Linked DNA regions of Homo sapiens: regions 1 and 2 are each linked to region 3. The links come from fine-mapping of genetic effects on gene expression. A gene starts in region 3. Each other region holds a variant in brackets. All regions are shown on one strand. Distances are between the middles of the regions.

Region 1 (2,760 bases), 23 kb before region 3:
TATTTGACATTTCTTCCGCATTTGTGCAGATGTCTGTAGGAAAGACACATGCTACACCCCAGGATCTGGGAGCCAGAGTGCCACAGGCAGCCAATCAATGTTTAGACGATGATGTTCAAGGTATGGCAAGAAGAGTGCACAAAATATTAGGGCTCCGGGGAAGAATGAGTGTATCAAATCGTCAATAAAAGTGTGGCAGACGGACAAAATCAACTTTCAGTGCTGCACTTTACAACTTGGTTATGAAACACTACGATTTCATGGTATATGACACGGAATCTCTTCTATCTGGGGATGTAAAATAAAACCCCTGGGAATATACTTTACAGTTCTTATGGGGAGAGCTCACTGTGTTTTCCAAGCCAAATAAATTTATATTATTAGAAAGAGAAGTCATGTTTATTTATTAAATTATTTGCCTGGTTTAGTGTATCATTGTTGAATTTCACACACCGAAAACATACGGCGTAATGAGAATTGAAAAGCCCCAACTTTAAAGTCTGCGAGAAAGGAAATGAAGTTGTGGACAGCTGTTCTCTGTTTCTCAGCACGACTACAAAGGAGGGGCCACGTTTCACCACTGTAAGTTTTGCTTCCTTTTCAGAGACTCATTGCATGTATTCCTGGAGAAAATACAGGACCACGTTTTGTGAGTTGTGAAGCACCAACGATGCGATGTTTTGCTCCCGTACCAGAATTTTCTTTCTAACGATTCTTGGTCCCAGGAGAAGCTAGATAATTAGCTAAGTTTGTTGAATTTGTGATAGGAAGATGATTTTTTACATCGTTGTAGGCACAATGGGTACTTTGATGACAGGTGTGCCCCTGGGGGAAAAGGACCTCTTTGAGGCCTCCTTCTGGAAGGACGGCTTCTCAGGGCCCACTCACTGACACACACCTCTTGACTTCAGTGATCAATGAAGTTCCCCCTCTGTCTCTCTGAGTCCATCTCTCTCCACAAGGGCAGGGCTAGTTCACATTGTGATTTTTACTACATAGATACTTTTCCACTATAAATTTAATAAAATTTGTTGTCAGTTTTTGGTGGTTATAATGATAAATTAAATTTACAGGTATCAGAGTGTGCTCTGAGATTTAAATTGTAACATCCAAAGATGAGCAGACAGCCAGTCACCGTGGAGAGGGCGCTCAGGCCTGCCAGACGTGACCACCCTCCTGCCTGAAGCTTTACTCACTACAGGAAGAGAGGGTTGGAGAACCTGGGCAGCAGAGAGTGCGCAGAGCACCAGAGGCAAACAGATGTGGGCAGTGCCATCCAGACCCTGCCTGGGGATGGGGAG[C/T]CTCGTTCAGGGGACTGGGCGACCCAGCCCACTGGCAGGAAGGGCAAGGAGGCTGTGTTTCCTGTGACCGTTATGCAGGAGGCTCACTTAGCCCACTTCCTTTGCTCTGAATCCACCCCAGTGAAAGCATGTTCTCACTATGTTTTGGCTTCTCTCTAAGAGCTGCCTACAGGGAGAGAAAGGGGCTGGCCTTGGAGGTGGTTGTTCCCACTGTAAATCAATGCAGCATTGGCCCTGTGACTTTTGTCTTCCCCTGAACAGTACATCCTCTCTTGTCGGGCTTCAGCAGCATTGACTCTAGAGTCAGAGAGTTGGAGGTTGGTGGAGACTTCTTATTCCACCTGTCTTAGATGGCATCCATCACCCCTGTCCATAGACACACATTGTCATGATGACAGGTGGTTGTGAGACCTCAGCAATAATGATTCTAGAAACTGCAGAAAACCTAGTACAGTGTGAAGAAGGAAATAAAAGTTGCCCAGAGCCTCTTTATAGAGAGCTAATGACTGTTTACAAATATTATTCTTGTTTTTTTCTTCTTGCTTTTTAACATATTTCAAGTCCTACAGTATAAAAGTGTTAGTATACTTATGGAAGTTCAGGTCCTAACTGAGAAATGTTCTTTAGAGAGGCAAATTTATCTCTAGGCTTATCTGTCAAAGAATGTATATTCTTTATACACAAAAGAATAGGCTCCACAAATATATGTATAAAGTTGGTTTGGATTTACCGACAAGCAGATTATTTTCTTTGTTCACGTTTCCTTCTTGCATATCAGACCATTTTTTTCCTGAGACCATTTTATTCCTTTAAGTAGTGGAACCTTTTGAGAAGTTCCTTTAAGGAAGCTTTGCTGGCAGAAAACTCAATTTTTTGATAGTTAAAATGTTTTTTAAATTTTTGCACTCATTCTTAATAGGTAATTATCCTGGGCTTACAATTCTAGATTGACAGCTGTGATCTTTCATCATGTTAGAGATATGAATCCACTGATTTCTGGCTTCCATTTTTGCAGCTGAAAAGTCATATTTCAATCTAATTGCCTATTCTTTGTGCAGTCTGCCTTTTCTCCAGGCTGCTTTTAAGATCTTCCCTCTTATCTTTCATTCATTTTTTTTTTTTTTACAGCGTATCTGGGTGCTAGCTCTTCCAATGCCTTCTGCCTGAGATTTGTTGTGCTTCCTGAATCTGAGGATTTGTGTCTTTCATCAATTTGGAAAACTCAGAGGAGCCACTTTCCCTGATTGTTGTGTCATCCCATTCTCTGAAGTCTTTCCTTCTGGAATTGCAATTAGACATATCTTCCACATTCCCACTGGCCTTTCCTAGTTTTCATTTCTCCTTCCCATTTCCCATGTCTATGTTTTTTTCTACATTCTAATGTTGCAGTCTGTATCTGATAATTTTAATAACTATAGTTTTACAGGTTTGATCCTGCTGTTTGTTGTTCCTGCTTAAT
Region 2 (2,760 bases), 33 kb before region 3:
CTCATGATAGGCCCCAGTGGAGTAGGGGACCTTCTGAGTCCTGAGTCACAGCAGCTTTTATAAAGACAGGTTTTTCTTGGTGTCCGGTAGGCTCCCCTAGCTGGGCCAGCAGAGGGAGGTGGGTGCAGAGGATGGTGGGGAGGGCAGTGGGAGGAAAGGGAGACAGACAAGAGCAAGGGCTCCTGCTGGAGACTGGGTTCCTCCCAGGTATTAGGCCTAGCATGATGGGGTTTGTTCGGGGAGCTCATATCAGGGAACAGGAGCAGGGCTGAGAGAGTGAAGTGGGGAGAAGGGCAAGGTCTTCCACAGTGCTTCCTCAGGCTGGCCGCCACTGTGGGCTGCCGGATCCCATCCACTGGGCACTGAGGAGCTGGGGGGGACTTGCCTCTCAGAGTGGTCTGCCTGAGGACAGAAGGAGGAGCCGTCATCCAGTACATGCCTTCCCTTGGTCCAGGGCTGCCACACAGAGTCATTCCCAGGCTGTGTGGGCACCATGCGTGTGTCATAGAAAAGGTGCCCACAGGTACCTCCTGCAGGAAGCTTGTTGCTGCCACAGTGGCTGGAGTAAAAGGTGGGATGAGAAGCCGTGACGTTGAGTTCAAGCAGAGAGCTCTGTGATATGACGGGAACAAGAAAGGCTTCTGCACTGTTCATGAACTTGGTTGTAGCTTGTGGGTAACCCATGTCTTTCTATCTGGGGGAGGGAACATTGATCACCTTCAATTCCTGGGTTTCTGCTAGATGACCTGATTCCGGGGGAAGGTACCAGCTTTGGGAGTCAAGAAAAGCAACTCACCTAACGTATCTATCTGAGTCTTAGTCTTCTCACCTGTAAAATGGGAATAATAATTTATTTCCTATCTCCTGGGTATTGTGAGTTAATAGGGAATTACAATAATAAATTTCCAAAGGAAATGCCTTGCAGTGTGTAAATCCCTCTGCAGGTGTGAAGTGAAACTAATAGTGAAACACAGACGCATGTGAACTGTCGGCAGTTATGACAGCTGGCCCCTTGAGGGTTCTAGGTGCCTAGAGACTGTCTGGCACTTTTATATGCATAATATCATCTCATCCTCCTTGCAGCTCCTATGGCAGTCACTGTTATTATTCCCATTTACAGATGAGGACACAGAAACTCAGAGAGAGCAAGGG[C/T]CTTGCCCTGGGCCCTGCAGGAAGTGGTATTGGGAGGCTCCACGCTGCCTGTCTGCATTGCAGAAGCTCAGCCCCTTTCCTGCCCCAAATCTCTCACCACTGCTTGGTTAAACACGGTGTTACCTGGCTGTGTAGCACTGTGGCAAGCGGTCTACTAATCCTGATTGGATTCTAGGAATACCAGCAATGGGATGGCTGCCACCTGCTGACAGGGAGAATGGAGGAGGCCAAGGTCAAGCCCAGGGGCAGCCTGCCTTGGTCCTAAGTGTGAGCGGCTGGTGGAGATGAGCCAGGAGGAGGCAGAAGCTGGTAAGGAGGCTGGTTTTGCCTAGTACAAGGATTGTTACCAGGGCTCCATGAATAGGCTTGGGGCAGTGTCTCAGCCTCTCGAATGGCCTGTAAATGTATGGGCCCATGGGTGCATATGCTTTTTTCTAGGAAGCAGGTTCATCATTTTTATTAGTGTCATAATAATCCATGACCCTGAAGTTTGAACAGCAGTTCTCCATTGGGCCACCCTGGCATAAATGCAAGTGGTACAGGGCCCCTTGGATATCTCTGTACACATTGAGACCTGGACAACTTGTCCTTCTGAATGGCTTAAATCCCAAGAATTTTGCCTCTTTACGTGGCTGCTTTAATTTTATGTTTTTACCTTTTTGCTACTATTACTTATGAGCCAGAATTAGGAATTTTCCAAGAACTGGAGGGAGGGAAAATGTGTCCCAGCTTCATCACCCACGTGCTCTCTTCCACCGCCTTTACTTTTGTCTGCATTTTCTCCAAAAGGGTTAATGTTCTTATCAAATTCAGTTTTCTTTCTTTCACTAATGCGTATTCATGCTCTTTCAAGCAAGCAAGCAAATGTGCTTCTATTAGGCAATCAGTTCTGCAGATTACATTTTTTTAGTTGCTAGGCTAGAAAAATAAAAATAACCTAATAAGAAAGTGTTTATGTTGGAAGTAGGTATTCCAAAAAGAATAGTTCTTTTAAAAATAATTCCCCAAACAACTCTTAACAGGTCTTGATTCAAAGAGGTTTTGTTTTCTTTTTTTTTTCTAGCGTGAAAAGCAATATACATAAGCCAGATCCTTTCCTTGGGCAGCGTGGTTAATACTAGCACACATCACACCTGGTATTTGACTTCTCAGAAACTTGCTAAAAACCTTGTGTGGCCATAATCCCTGACTTGATTAACTGTTATTGAGTGTGTTCTGCAAAGTAACAGGAGCTTTAGATGTCTCCTGAAAAGAAAAGCAGAACAGACACAGATTGCCGAAATGAAACAGCAACACAGTGATGATATATTTTCACAACTTGAAATACTAAAAACGTGGTCAAAAGGATCCATCCGAGTCAGAGATTGGGCTCTGTCTGTGGCCACAGCGGAAGCCAGGTGCTGTGGGCTCACCACCCTGACCTTGGATGGATGGCAAGACTTGCCACCCCCACCCTCCTACTGAGGAGTCCCTTGGAGAAATCAATGGCAAAACTGGCCCCAAGCATGGAAAGGGGCTGCAGTTCTAAGGTGGACCGGGGCAGAGCTTGCTTTCTGTCTTCTGAGAAGTGGCTGGGGTAAGACCAAGTCTAGTGGACCTCTTGATGAG
Region 3 (2,760 bases):
CGCAGCCGCTGGCAGTTTTCCTTTCCAGCGTCTCTGGGGAGCCTGGAGATGTCCTTGGTGCCGATGTGACACGAAGAGTGATTGCGCCGCCCTGCAGAGGCGGTGGCGGGACGCTGCGCTCGGGCTGGGAAAGGCCGGCCCCAGGGCGACCCCTCCGGAGGCCCCCGGAGAGCAGGTGTGCACCTCGCCTCCCGCTGGGCAGCCAGTTCAGGAGAAAAATGTGAAGCTTTTAGCTAAACAAAATATTTCTTTCGTTAAGGGCTTTCTCCACACGGAGACTTTCTAGCCACGTGAGACTTTGACCTCCCAGTCCCCCAGATTCAGCGCTGGGACCGAGCGTCTGCTGTTATTTTTAGTAGAAGTATAAAAAGAATCTCGAAAAGTTTTAGCTCTGGAGAAGGCGTGAATACAGCTGGTGCCTTCATACACTCCACTTGAGCCGCTCTTTAAGAACTCCAGGAGATCAGAAAGCAATACGAAAGCCAGAGCATTGCACATGGGATGGGCTGGCGGGTGGCCTTTGGGTCCCTATCTTATGGACGATTTTTGTAAATGGGGCATTGGAGATGAGTATCACCTGGATCACATTTTTAGGTTGAATTCCTCCGTGGGGGGAACTTTAGCAATACGCATCCAAATAAGAATGTAGATTGCAATAATTGTAGTAAAGTGTTTGCCAGACTCATCTCAGAAAAAGACATTATCAAAAGGCATTTATTATCTTCCTAATGCGTGTCTGGCACTGGGCAGACACTGTAGAATACTATCTTGATTAGAGTCTCAAGGATTTTGTACTTAAAGTCCTTTACAAATAAAAGTATTCAAGTATAATCTATTATAAAGACTCTTTTCTCCACTTTGGGGATATACGGTGTGGCATCGATTCATTGGTCATACCAAAACTGTTACTTCTGTTTTGGAGGAATTAACAAGGAAAACCCAGGCTTAGTAAATCAACATCGAAGTTCAGAAGTTCAGAGTAATTTGTCTTGGGAACAAAGTCCTCCCTAGAGCGAAGAGGCATTCACAGGAGCTCTTGGTGTTAATGGGATTATTCAAGATATACCTGAGACCAGATAAATATTTGATGATTTTGCCAAGCACTAGGGTTTCTTTGCAGTTTGTCTTTGGCTGACGTTTTCCCCCCGTGGGGTTTGGACTTTGTGGCTTCACCAGATTTTGCAAATGAAAGAAGGCTGGGGTTTCCCAAGAGTACACTTGTGCAGGAAACAACAGACTAGTGAGGTTTACAAGAGGGGGGTGTGTGTGTGTGTGTGTCTGCCTGTGGGATGGGGGTGGCACGGGGGAGAGAGAGATGTGGGTTACAAAGCTGCCATCTAGAGGCTAGAGGCTCCTTTCTGCAGTGTATATAATGCAAGTCTGCAGCCAGCAGAGCTCACAGTTGTTGCAAAGTGCTCAGCACTAAGGGAGCCAGCGCACAGCACAGCCAGGAAGGCGAGCGAGCCCAGCCAGCCCAGCCAGCCCAGCCAGCCCGGAGGTAAGGAAACGGTGCTCGGGCAGCAGCTCTGCTCGGAAAGAAGGCACGGCTTCTGCTCTTAAGCCAAGTGGTCTTTTCAAAGGCCTTCTTTAAAATCGCTCAGATGGGTGCTTTTGAGTCTGCGGGTCTGGTTTCTGAAAACCCAGGCTGCACGCAGCTGCATTGCAAAGTGCTTTTGCTAATTCGGAGGGCTTCACCTTTCTCTTCAGAAAGCAAAGGGCAGTTTTCTTAAGTCACTTGCAGAAGGAAATTTCCATGTGTATTTAGGAATCTGGTGTTTATTTGCTGTGTGGCTATTTAAGCTCCAGTAAGCAGGGGAACTTTGCAAGAACACAGACTATCCATTCTGCCTGACCAATTTGGCATGGGGATTAGCTTGGCACCCACTGTTTACCTGTTTTGCTTCTAGTATATCAGTTTGGAAACAGATAAAATTGGCAGTAAATACGTAATTCCAGAATGATGAACACTTTATTAAGAGGCATCCTTAAATGGAGCAGAAAACTGCTGAGAATCTTTGTGAGTCCAAGATGTATTTGAATTCAGTACTTTGGGGGATTTACCAGAGTCTGTAAGTCCGGAAGCTATAAACGTGAATGTTAAACACAGCCCGGTCTTCTCTTCTCTTGATGGCACGCTTGCTAATCTAATTTGAGTATTGTTCTCTTAGAAGGTGTTAAGTCCAACTTCAATTGGGGTTGGGGGAAGCACACACACAAATCTACTATTTTGCAATTTAAATATACTCTTCAGGTAAAATGTGGATTTTGTTCAATTTTGTTGGCATGTGCAAAGATTCAAGGAGTGACTGAGAGAACTTTGGAGTGAGGTCAGGGATGGGTGGTTAGCCAAGACTTGTAACTTCCAGGGAGAATGAGAAGTTGTAAAAGTCAGACTGGCTGTCTCTCTTTCTCTCTTCCTCTTTCTTTCTTTCTTTCTTTCCTTTTGCTCACAACAGGATTACTTAGTGTTTCAAAAGTGGGAGAGAGCCTCCTTAAATGGTTTACAGCCCTTTGAATGTATTTGGTGCAGTGACATCCCCTGAAACTTCAGTCTGCAAAGTCTCAACATGGTAACTTTGTTCTTTTCTTTTTTAAAGGCAGATGCTGCTTTTAGTGTCCCTTTATTTATTCCAGGAAAAATGTGGACATCAGCTAGGCACGCCTAGCAAAGAAAGTGGAGGCTGCTGGTTTCTGTGCTTTAACTTTCCATAGATTTTAAATGGATAAACTGCTTGCCCTTCTTTCATCAGAATATGAGCT

What was found.
Region 1: its variant is fine-mapped to the expression of ACKR3 in blood mononuclear cells (TOPMed, PIP 0.99).
Region 2: its variant is fine-mapped to the expression of ACKR3 in whole blood (INTERVAL, PIP above 0.99). The same link has a PIP of 0.9 or more in T cells and blood mononuclear cells.

The regions. Positions count from the first base shown.
Region 1 is chr2:236,545,428-236,548,187 of GRCh38, forward strand. It overlaps a transcript of ACKR3 not described here. Among named protein-coding and RNA genes, the nearest start is that of ACKR3, 23 kb to the right of the region's middle. RefSeq lists an enhancer at 946-995. The variant C/T (reference allele first, on the strand shown) is at 1,302.
Region 2 is chr2:236,535,887-236,538,646 of GRCh38, forward strand. It overlaps a transcript of ACKR3 not described here. Among named protein-coding and RNA genes, the nearest start is that of DRC11, 30 kb to the left of the region's middle. RefSeq lists enhancers at 1,005-1,224, 2,328-2,377. The variant C/T (reference allele first, on the strand shown) is at 1,153.
Region 3 is chr2:236,568,427-236,571,186 of GRCh38, forward strand. It overlaps ACKR3 (atypical chemokine receptor 3), which reads left to right and starts at 1,399. Exons shown (of 2, transcript NM_020311.3): 1 at 1,399-1,498. RefSeq lists an enhancer at 1-635.